Regions from separate parts of the Homo sapiens genome. Here regions 2, 3 and 4 are each linked to region 1. The links come from fine-mapping of genetic effects on gene expression. A gene starts in region 1. Each other region holds a variant in brackets. All regions are shown on one strand. Distances are between the middles of the regions. Region 1 holds the start of LINC00839 (long intergenic non-protein coding RNA 839). Region 2 overlaps LINC01518 (long intergenic non-protein coding RNA 1518). Region 3 has its middle 290 kb from the start of LINC00839. Region 4 has its middle 110 kb from the start of LINC00839.

The links.
Region 2: its variant is fine-mapped to the expression of LINC00839 in fibroblasts (GTEx, PIP above 0.99). The same link has a PIP of 0.9 or more in subcutaneous fat and uterus.
Region 3: its variant is fine-mapped to the expression of LINC00839 in esophagus muscle (GTEx, PIP above 0.99). The same link has a PIP of 0.9 or more in gastroesophageal junction and prostate.
Region 4: its variant is fine-mapped to the expression of LINC00839 in prefrontal cortex (CommonMind, PIP 0.95).

The regions. Positions count from the first base shown.
Region 1 is chr10:42,474,042-42,476,726 of GRCh38, reverse strand. LINC00839 (long intergenic non-protein coding RNA 839) reads right to left here and starts at 1,236. Exons shown (of 5, transcript NR_026827.1): 1 at 847-1,236.
Region 2 is chr10:42,678,107-42,680,791 of GRCh38, reverse strand. The region is part of intron 4 of LINC01518 (long intergenic non-protein coding RNA 1518); the gene reads left to right. Among named protein-coding and RNA genes, the nearest start is that of LINC01518, 12 kb to the left of the region's middle. The variant G/A (reference allele first, on the strand shown) is at 1,185.
Region 3 is chr10:42,181,333-42,184,017 of GRCh38, reverse strand. No RefSeq gene overlaps it. Among named protein-coding and RNA genes, the nearest start is that of LINC00839, 290 kb to the left of the region's middle. The variant C/T (reference allele first, on the strand shown) is at 1,130.
Region 4 is chr10:42,362,570-42,365,254 of GRCh38, reverse strand. It overlaps the pseudogene LOC441666. Among named protein-coding and RNA genes, the nearest start is that of LINC00839, 110 kb to the left of the region's middle. The variant TC/C (reference allele first, on the strand shown) is at 1,135.

The DNA.
Region 1 (2,685 bases):
AAATTAAACAACAAAGACCAGAGTAGGAAACAACAACCTACAATAGAAATGAACCAATAAAGGACTAATCTCTAAAGTGTCTTTAAAAATGCTTCACATCAATGTAGGAAAAACACAAATGATCCAAGACAAAAAGAACACTATGAAGGAAAAAAAAGGGGGGTGCATGGGCGAATAAATATTTGCTAAGCCGTACTATGAAGAGGGTTATTTCCAGTTCCAGATGAGAGATACCCACAGGCAGCCCGGGGGGTGGGACCCCAGGGGACAGGACCCCCAGAAGGTGACAGAGATCCTGGCAGTGGGGGACCTGGGGCAGAAGGTGACCCCATCCTCTTCCCGGGCTGCCGCTCAAGGCTCCTGCCGCTCCCGGGCTCCAGCGCCCTCTCACCGGGTCCTGATCAGGGCTCCCTTTCTCACCCCGGGTCAGGCAGAAGGCCCCGGACCCCAGTCCCAAAAGAAACGGAGGCTGCAGGGCTTCCACGCAGGAGAGAAGGGGAGGGCTCCTCTCCGACCCGGGCTCCTTCAGCGCCCACCCCAGCGGACTCTGAGAGGGCGAGGAGGAGGTCGGGGGCTAGGTTCAAGCCGCACTGGGCCCCGGATTCAAGAAAGAAACGGGCTCCTGAGACGCCTGTGCATCAGAGGGGTCCTGGCTCGGCCTGGGATGGGGCTCGGGGAGAGTCAGACGATCTGCCAGGCTCCCAGCCTGAGGCCGCCCTCCCCGGCGCGCAACCCCCGCCCCCACCGCTGGGGCCCTCCTGCCTTTCCCGGCACGTCGCTCCCCGAGAGGCCGAGACTCCTGCCTGTCCTTCCTCTGCCGCCGGTATCCCAGACTCCCGGACTCACGCGCGGCTGGGTTGCCGTCTCCTCCTTTCAGGGCTGGACGCCACAGGTTCCAGGCTTCTTGGGTTCTGGGAGGAGGCGCAGCGGAAGGCGAGGTCGCTGCATGAGGCAGCTCCAAAGTCGCCTCGCCCTCGCGCTGTTGCTGCCTCACTGCCTCCAGCCTCCAGCATCCGGAGAGAGTGCAGGCAGGCGGCACCCAGTTCTCTTCCTTCTCCTCCTGCCCACGGCGGAGCAGCCTCCAGCATCCAGGGAGAGTGCAGGCACGTGGTGCCTGGCCCTCTTCTTTCTCCTCCTGCCCAGGGCGGAGCCATACAGACCACGCTGCCTGGAGCAGGGTGAAATGCGGAAAGCCCACGGAGCAACTATTTATAATGACTTATTTAACTAGATATCCTGTAAGGCATGTTCGGATTGGATGAGAGCCACTGTGCAAAACAACTCTGATTGGATAATATGACCCAATCAGGGCTGGCTGAAATGTTCCTTCTCGTCCTATCAGACTCAGGGTATAGATGCTGGGGTGGGGCAGGAGCCAGCGCCCCCACCGGAATTTGTGGCCACTTCGCCTTTGGCTTTGCCTCCTGCCATGCCCCGCAGGCCCGGAGAATGTGGCCCCAGACTGAAATGAGAAGAAGGTGGCCCCGCCGAGGGTGAGTCTGGGGAGGCTGGAGTGGGGGCTGTGAGGGGGTGCCCGGGCAGGAGTCTCGGCCTCCGCTGGGAGCAGCATATTCAGTGTGTAATGTGAATAACAGGCAAAATAGGTCTTAATTTTTTGTATTATTAGTGACAAAGACTTCCGGTCAACCGCAGGCCGTTAGGAGTTATGCTTTGGGGGAGTTGAGAGTTAAACTTGGATTTTTGACTGTGGGGGGTTAGCATCCATATCCCCCACATTGTTCAAGGGTCAGGTGTATTTTAGAGCACTGGCATGAATCACTTTGGGTCCCACTTGTTGAAAATAGGCATTGACATTTGGAGGCGCCTCCTTGTAGCGAGCAGGTACTACTGATCTCTCTCTTCCACGTACTGACCTTTCCCCAGCTTCTGTGGAACCCTGTTTCCTGGAGTTTACTTACATTCTTTAGTCAATTCTTCTCTAATTCTTCTGAAAGTGGATTTGGAGCAAGGGAAGAGAAACCTGCAGTCTTGGCTGTGTCCAGGTTTTGGTTCTGATTCTTGTGTGCGGTCCACATTCAGATTGGGGTCCTTAATGAAATCCATGGCTTCATCTCTCCTTGCATGCCAGCATCACCCAATCGTGTATAGTTAAACTCGAACTCCCTTTGCACCACAGACTCCCATCTCCAGGTGTTTAACAGGAATTGGATACTGAGCATGTGATATTTTTACCTAAACCTAAATACATCTTTTTTCCTTGTTTCCCTGTGTGCTTGTCCCCTGCCCAACCATCAGCACCACAAATCTAGACGCCTAAAATTCATCCACCTCCTTTGTAATGGCACCCAACCACCACATACAATCCTTTTAAATATCTCAGTTCTGTATTTGGAAAATTACACATTTTAACTGTCTTTTCACTTCATTGCCTTTCCATTACTCTAGGCCCTCATGGTTTCTTCACTGTTAGACTAATGAGCTATGAGTGTTTACCCTCCTAATCCTGCATACTCCTTAAAACCTCAGGCAGAAAATGGAAATTAAACTCGTGGGCATTCAAGGACACCCCCACGATTTTCAGGGTAAAGTTTTTATGGCTTAGCTTAATGCCCAACGACTTTCACATTCCTCTGTTGATAATTTCAATCTCTTGAAATTCTCTCAAACAAAAATAACTAACACTTGTTAACAACTTCGTGTTTCCAGGAAATACTTTAAGCAATT
Region 2 (2,685 bases), 200 kb before region 1:
TTTAGCTACTAGAGAGGCTGAGGCAGGACGATTGCTTCACCAGTGAGTTCGAGGTCTCAGTCGTGATTGTGCCATGGCACCCCAGCCTGAGTGGCACAGCGAGATTTTGTGGAAAAAAAAGAGCATGGCAGGAATGGGGACAGATGGCAATATTAAATAGAGTGGCCAGGGTTGCCCTAAGTGAAAATTTATCAAAGACTTGAAGTGGGGGAAGCAACTGGCCAAGGTGCTGAGGTGAGAGCATTGTAGGCAGAAACAACAGGATAAAGATGCTAGGAGGGAACTCCATGGTGTGTCTGATCAGTAAAGATTGTGTAATCTCTGGGAGGCTCTTGCTGGGGCTTTGGCTTTTACTCTGACTGAGATCGGAACTGTGGGAGGGTTCTGAGCAGAGAGGCAACATGATCTGTCTCCTGATTTAAAAGCATCCCTTGGCTGCTGAGTTGAGAAAGATTGTGGGAAGATTTGGGTAGAAGCAGGGAGGCCAAGCTGTGGCAACATCCAGATGGGAGATAAGTGTTTTTGACCAGGGTCATGGCAATGGTGAGAGATGGCTGATTCTTTTTTTTTCTTTTTTCTTTTCTTTTTTGAGACGGAGTCTCGCTCTGTTGCCCAGGCTGGAGTGCAGTGGGGAGATCTCAGCTCACTGCAACCTACACCTCCCAGGTTCAAGAGAGTCTTCCGCCTCGGCCTCCTGAGTAGCTGGGACTACAGGCACCTGCTACCACGCCTGGCTAATTTTTGCATTTTTTTGTAGAGACGGGGTTTCACCATATTGACCAGGCTGTTCTCGAACTCCTGACCTTTTGATCCACCCACCTTGGCCTCCCAAAGTGCTGGGATTACAGGCGTGAGCCACCGTGCCTGGCCCTGAGAGATGGTTGATTCTTGTTGAAATACTAAGTAATTAAAAAAAAAAAAACAGTACTGCCTTTCCCAATTATATGAAGTATGGGTTGCTAGATTAAGGAAACCTTAAGTCAGGCTGGTGCAGTGGCTTATGCCTGTAGTGCCAGCACTTTGGGAGGCAGAGATGGGGGGATTGTTTTAAGTCCAGGAGTTTGAGACCACCCTTGGCAACATAGCAAGATCTCCTCTCTACACAAATAAATAATAATAAAATATAATTATCCAGACACGGTGGCATGTGTCTGTAGAATCAGTTACTCTGGTTGTCGAGGTGG[G/A]AAGATCTCTTGAGGGTGGGAGTTTTGAGGCCAGCTTGGGCACATAGCAAGGCTTCTGTCTCCACAAAAAAAAAAAAAAAAAAAAAAGTAGCTGGGAGTTGTGATGCTCACTTGTAGTCCTGGCTATGGTGACTGCATGACTGATCCCTAGAGCTGTAATTTTACTAATTAATTTTTCAGATACTACTCAGCCAGCAACTGAGCCTAACCAGGAACACACCCTCAACCATTCAGTGGTCCTTTTTTTTGTTTTTCTAGTCCTCCTGAAAGTCGATTACTCTCAGAAGGTGACGAAAACTTGCATTACTTTTGTTTTTCTTCCTAGAGACAAGCTCTTGCTCTGTCACCAGGCTGCAGTGCAGTGGCTTGATTATGTCTCAATGCAGCCTGAAACCCCTGGGCTGAAACAATCCTCCAACCTCAGCCTCCCAAGTAGCTGGGACTACAGACGTTTGCCCCCGTGCCTAGCTAACTTCTTTATTTTTTATTGTTGAGATGGGATCTTGCTATGTTGCCCAGGATGGTGTCAAACTCCTGGCCTCAAGTGATCTCTCTGTCTCAGCTTCCCAAAGTGCTGGAATTATGCACAGGCCTGAGCCACCTGTGCTCAACCCCCATTTTCTTTTTTTTTTTTTTTTGAGATGGAGTCTAGCTCAGTTGTCCAGGCTGGAGTACAGTGGTGCCATCTCGGCTCACTGCAACCTCCACCTCCCTGTTTCAAGCAATTCCCCTGCCTCAGCCTCCCGAGTAGCTGGGATTACAGGCGCATGCCACCATACCTGGCTAATTTTTGCTCTATTTTTAGTAGAGATGTGGTTTCACCATGTTGGCCAGACTGGTCTTGAACTCCTGACCTCAGGCAGTTGGCCCACCTTGGCCGCCCAAAGTGCCGGGATTACAGGTGTGAGCCACTGCATCTGGCCCTTTTTATAATAATAATTTAATTGAAATATGATTAACATCTCACACAATTCATTTATCAAAGTGTGCAATTCAGGCTGGGTGTATTGGCTAATTCCTATAACGCTAAGACTTTGGGAGGCTGAGGTAGGTGGATTGCTTGAGTTCAGGAGTTCGAGACTAGCCTGGGCAACATGGCAAAACAGCATCTCTAGAAAAAATACAAAAATTAGCTGGATATGGTGGCTCATGCCTGTAGTCTTAGCTACTTGAGGACATGATGCTGGAAGATCACTTAAGCCCAGAAGGCATATAGGTTGCAGTGAGACCAGATGGCGGTACTGCACTAGTGTGGGTGACAGAAGGAGACCATGTCGAGAAAGAGAGAGAGTGAGAGAGGAAAGAAGTAAAGAGAGACGGAGAGAGAGAGAAAGGAAAGAAAGAGAGAAATTCAGTAGTTTTTAGAATATTCATGAAGCTGTGCATCCATCACCACAGTCACTTTTAGAAGCGATTACCCATTTATGAGTTACCCACTTAAGAGTGAGAAACCCTCACCTCTTAGCTGCTACCTCCTACTTCCCCCACGTTCCTGTGTCTT
Region 3 (2,685 bases), 290 kb after region 1:
GCAGGGGAAGTGGAGCCAATTACATCAGTGTCAGTGGACTGAGAAATACTCCAGGGAGTAGTTCTCATGCACGACTACCAGTGGCCAGACCAAGGTAGTGCAGCCTGTGCACAAACCTCCTGCTGCTTTTCCAGAGGACTGGATTTCTGGGAAATGGCTACTGAACAGGCTGCCAGGATCCATATATCCAGATTCAGAGAGATACATCTCTGGATTCAAATGCGCTTTTTCTTTGTGCATAATTTTAGCAGTCATTGTTACTACGCCTTGGGGATTCTAGTCATTATACTTCAGCTGACTCTCTATGGCCCTTTCTCCCCTTCACTGCTCTATCTGAACCTGGGGAAGCAGCTCAGGCTGCAAATGAGGCAGACCTCATGGCCTGGAATTAGCATCCCCTAGGACGGCTGTCAATCAGTGATGACAAGGGAGGTGTACACATCCCCCAGCTCCCTCACCTCTCAGGTGGAATAACAGAGGCATTTTTCCTGTGTTTCTATGTGGGCTTGAGCTCTCGTCATCCTCAGAGGTGGCTCCTTCTGAGGCACCTTTCACTTTCCCTTTCCCTCCTCCCCTCCCTTGCTCACTTGCTTGTTTCCCGCACTTTGTAAATATACTGTCTACATGCGAATCTTTGGCATCCTTCTCACTGAGGGGACCCAACCTAATGCATTGGAAAAATCCTTATTCTTGGAGGGCATCGTTGGTTTGAATTATTGCCACTTCTCATGTTTTAATGCCTAGGGAAATTCCAAAAATTTAGGAAATATTTAAATTCCCTTTGCCAATCTTTCTTAGATTTGATTTTAGCAGAGATTCATTTTCTCTAGGTCACAAAATCACAGAAGCCTTCCACAAATGGCTACACAACATAGAGTCCACATAGAGCAGAGACTCAGAATCTCCCAGGATTTGACATCCACACATCAGACAGTCCTAGAGTCTCAGGTTTTTTCTAGGTCGATCGCCTCATAAATCTGCCTTGTGATATTTTTATTCTACCTTAGGGGAAGACCATTGTGTGGATGATGAGAGTTGTTTGTGGAATGAATAATACACCCACTAAAGACATCATTGTCCTAATATCTGGAATCTATGATCGTTACTTATGAATATGTCAAAAATAACT[C/T]GGCAGACATGGTTGAGAATTTTGGGGTCAGGAGAGTATCCTGAATTATCTGGGTGAGACCATCATAATCACAAGGGTCCTTACAATAGGGAGGGAGGAAGGTAACAGCCAGAGAGGACCTGGGACAATGGACAGGGAAACTGGAGTGGTGGAGGAACGGGCCAGGCTGCTAGGAATGTGGGAACATCAGAAAGACGGAATGCTCAATATTGGATTCTCTCTCTTGAAGCCTAGACTGAATAGAGCCCTATTACTCCTTGATTTTACTTCATTGAGACTTCTGACCTCCAGAAATGTAAGATAATACACTTGTGTTATGTGGAGCAGTAAGGTTGTGGTAATTTGTTACAGCAGCAACAGGAAACCAATGCAAGGGGAAGGGGTGTGTTTTACTTCCCTAGTGTATCACTGTCTTCTGTTCTCCCAAATAGTTCCGTGTTTTTGTGTTTGCTGTCAATCTCAACAAGAGACAGAAAATATTTTTCTATGAGGAGAGCTAGCACCACAATTCTTCTTATGTAGAGTGTCTTGAGTAATTCTCTGGGTTAGGTCTTGTACAATCTTAGTATCTGAGAGCCTGGAGGTCATCCCTCACAGCACATGAGAAGAGGAAGGGGATGCGGGTTTGCTGTTTTAACATTTGTGAGGCAAATTAGATGTACAAGACTCATTCTTTTTTTTATTATTATTATTGTTCTTTAAGTTCTAGGGTACATGTGCACAACGTGCAGGTTTGTTACATATGTATACATGTGCCATGTTGGTGTGCTGCACCCATTAACTCGTCATTTACATAAGGTATACCTCCTAATGCTATCCCTCCCCCCTCCCCCCACCCCACGACAGGCCCTGGTGTGTGATGTTCCCCTTCCTGTGTCCATATGTTCTCATTGTTCAATTCCCACCTGTGAGTGAGAACATGCAGTGATTGGTTTTTTTGTCCTTGCGATAGTTTGCTGAGAATGATGGTTTCCAGCTTCATCCATGCCCCTACAAAGGACATGAACTCATCCATTTTTATGGCTGCAAGCGAGGACTGAGTCAGAGAGATGGGGATGGCAGAGGAGAGAAAATGTGATCAGGGCCGTGTAAGATGTGACCCTGCTGCCATATCTGAAAGAAAGGCTGTTGGTGTTTGTAAAGGCTTTGGGCAAATTGTGCTTTGTAGACAAAACTGTAGAAGGGTCTGGGTTTAAGCTTAGTGTCAGCGTGATGAGGACTAGAGGTCGCAGTGAGCTTGTGTTAAGAAATCCAACCTGCACTTCTGGCTTTGTCTCTTTTCTGGTTTTATAGGTGGTGGGTTCCTCTATGGAATGAACGTGGCTCTGTGGAAGGAACATAGTTAAGGTCAGACAGACCTAGATTCCAAGTTCAGCTTCAACAACTGCTGACCAAGTGACTTTTATGCAAATCAGCCATGTGCTGTCATGAACAGTTTCCTCATGTGTGAAATGGAGCACTGGGGATGTGAAGGGGTGTCCTGAGGGTTCCGCCAGCTGATGCACCATGAAGTGTACATACATGTATAGACAGACACACACACATACATGAGAAGA
Region 4 (2,685 bases), 110 kb after region 1:
AGAAGACAACCTGAGTTAAAGAATGTAGCCTCTCAAGGGAGCAGGTGGATGCCCTGGGTCAGAGAGACATCTCCTGGTGTACCCTTCCTCTAAAAAGCTAACCCCTTGAGACATTAAGTTTGCCTTCATCCAACCCAGCTTCCATTTCTTGGAGACATATTGCTGGTCAGCTAATCAGATGCTGGTACTGAGGTTAAAAGAGAGAAATAATTTTTGCCCTTGATTCTTTCAGATTTGTGAAGGAAAGAAAATAGTCCAAAAAACAAAAACTACCCAACCCAGTGAGATGGTGCAAGAACCTGCAAAGTAAAATGCACTTGAGGCCCTCACTGGGGCATAGCATAGTTTCTCCTGGAGCATGGTCATTGAGCACTTAAGCGATCAGGATGAGGGTGGGAGGATCTCTCATTTGTTGGATGGCCTGACTTGACACATGAATCAAACACATCTGTATTCCAATGAGCATTTGAATTTCTAGGTTTTTCACCTCGAAGATATTTGTTCACTTATTAGTTTTTTAACTGTAAATTACATTTTATCAGTAGAGCTTGAAAGGTTAAGAAAATATACAAAGGACATGAAAAAGGTAGGTTTCAGGAAAAAATTAAATATTTAGTCATACATTCCATTTGTTAAAAATTCTTATTTGCCTTTTTGTTCCCCAGAGTGAGTGTAGAAAGGTTGTCAAGTGTTTTTTTTTTTTAAGAGAGGGAAGATTCAAACAAAATCCCAGGGCTTAGCTTTGGGAGTGCTACTGGGAAAAAGAATAGGAAAAAATGTTTATTCCATTATGGCTATAGATAATGAATATATTTCTACAAGAAAATATGATAGATCAGTTGGTGAAATGTGTAGATTCATCAAAACAGTTCCGATTTTTGTAGGGTGAATTGTGACAGTGGCTATCTCTGCTCTATATCCTGTTATCTTGATTTTTGAGTATAAATGCTAAATTTTATGAGATGGGACTTGCCACCTCCTAGCAGTGTTCCCAAGTGACTAATTGTTTACTAAATGATTTGTTATAAAATAATTTAATGACATGTTTATTGTCTGAAAGGGATAGTTTTGCTTTTTTTGTTAAGTCATGGAATGTAAGTAAGCACTTTAAAATTTTCTTCTTTTTTTTTTTTT[TC/C]TTTTTTTTTTGAGATGGAGTCTCGCTCTGTCTTCCAGGCTGGAGTGCAGTGGCATGATCTAGGCTCACTGCAAACTCCGCCTCCTGGGCTCAAGCAATTCTCCTGCCTCAGCCTCCTGAGTAGCTGGGATTACAGGTGTGCACCACCATGTCTGGTTAATTTTTGTATTTTTATTAGAGACGGGGTTTCACCATGTTGGTCAGGCTGGTCTGGAACTCCTGACCTCGTGATCCACCCGCCTTGGCCACCCAAAGTGCTGGGATTACAGGCATGAGCCACCATGCCCGGCCTAAAATTTTCTTCCCTTATATAAACTCTGTGTTTGAGCAATTTTGCTGAATTTTTCAAACACTTAGTATTAAAAAGCCAAGTGAATAACTCTGACTGGGAATTGAAGCCTGAGCCCAGTGACTCCAAGCTAAGGCCAATATTGAGACTGCAAAAAAAGGTTATTGAAGGTCCAGTTATTTCTTCCTGAGGAGCCTTTCCTGCAGGTGTCCCAGCCCGCTCACCCCAGCCATGGAAGAATCCTTTCTACTGAGAGAAGCTACAGAGCCCAGGCGAGCTGGGGATCCATAGGCAGATGCAGCTGGGGTTGGGATGGAAGGGCATTGGGAGGGTCTTTCTGAGGATGAAATTTTTATTGACCTGGGGTTGTTTCTAGACTCTGTCAAATAAAAAAAGTCAGATTTAAGTAAAAAGTTTTGAATTTCCAAAGGAGTATTACAAGAGGGGGTAGTACAGACTATAAGATCTTTGAGGACCTCAAAGGTTAGGCATACAAGGGCTGTCTTTCCTAGGGAGAAGCAAACAAGATTAGAAAGGAGATGGGAGGGGAGGGCAGGATGAAGGGTGGCAAAATCAGACTCTAGATCAGAGAATATTTTACCCTGAAGTCAGTATCTTTTTAGCAGGGACATAACATGAGGTTGTATGTTTGCTCAGACTGAGATTGGGTCAAAGTTCAGGAGTCTGGGGAAGGAGAGAAACTTAAGCAAAGTTGGATTAAAAAGTATGTTGTTATGATCACTAAAGACAATTGTTCAGCTGATTCTTTATGGGAAAATGATGAAAATTTGTAGAGTCTGTGTCTGGCTATGTGATAGGTGAAAAAAGCAAGCATCATCTAAGTCACAATGGGAAAGTTGTTTATTTTCATTAAGCTGCTCCTGGAGAACACAATAGATGAGAAATTTTTATTAATCACAGTTATTTACCAAAATTTTCTGTGTGCCCCCATCTTTTCACACCACTTTCCTTTTTTCTATACACCTCTTCCATTTGACTGTTCCTGCATTGTATCTTATAGAACAAACTGGTAAACACAAGTATAGTGTTTTGCCGAGTTCTGTGAGTAGTTTAATCACATTATTCAATTCCAGGAGGGGTTCAATAATTTGAACCATTTAAAGTAGCTGCTCTAGACAGTCACTCAGAAGTACAGATGAGCACCTGGGACTTGTGACGGGCATCTGCAGTAAGGACAGTATTGTGGGACTAAACTCTGGACTTGTGGGATCTGCACTGATTTTGAGTAGTGTGAGATAAA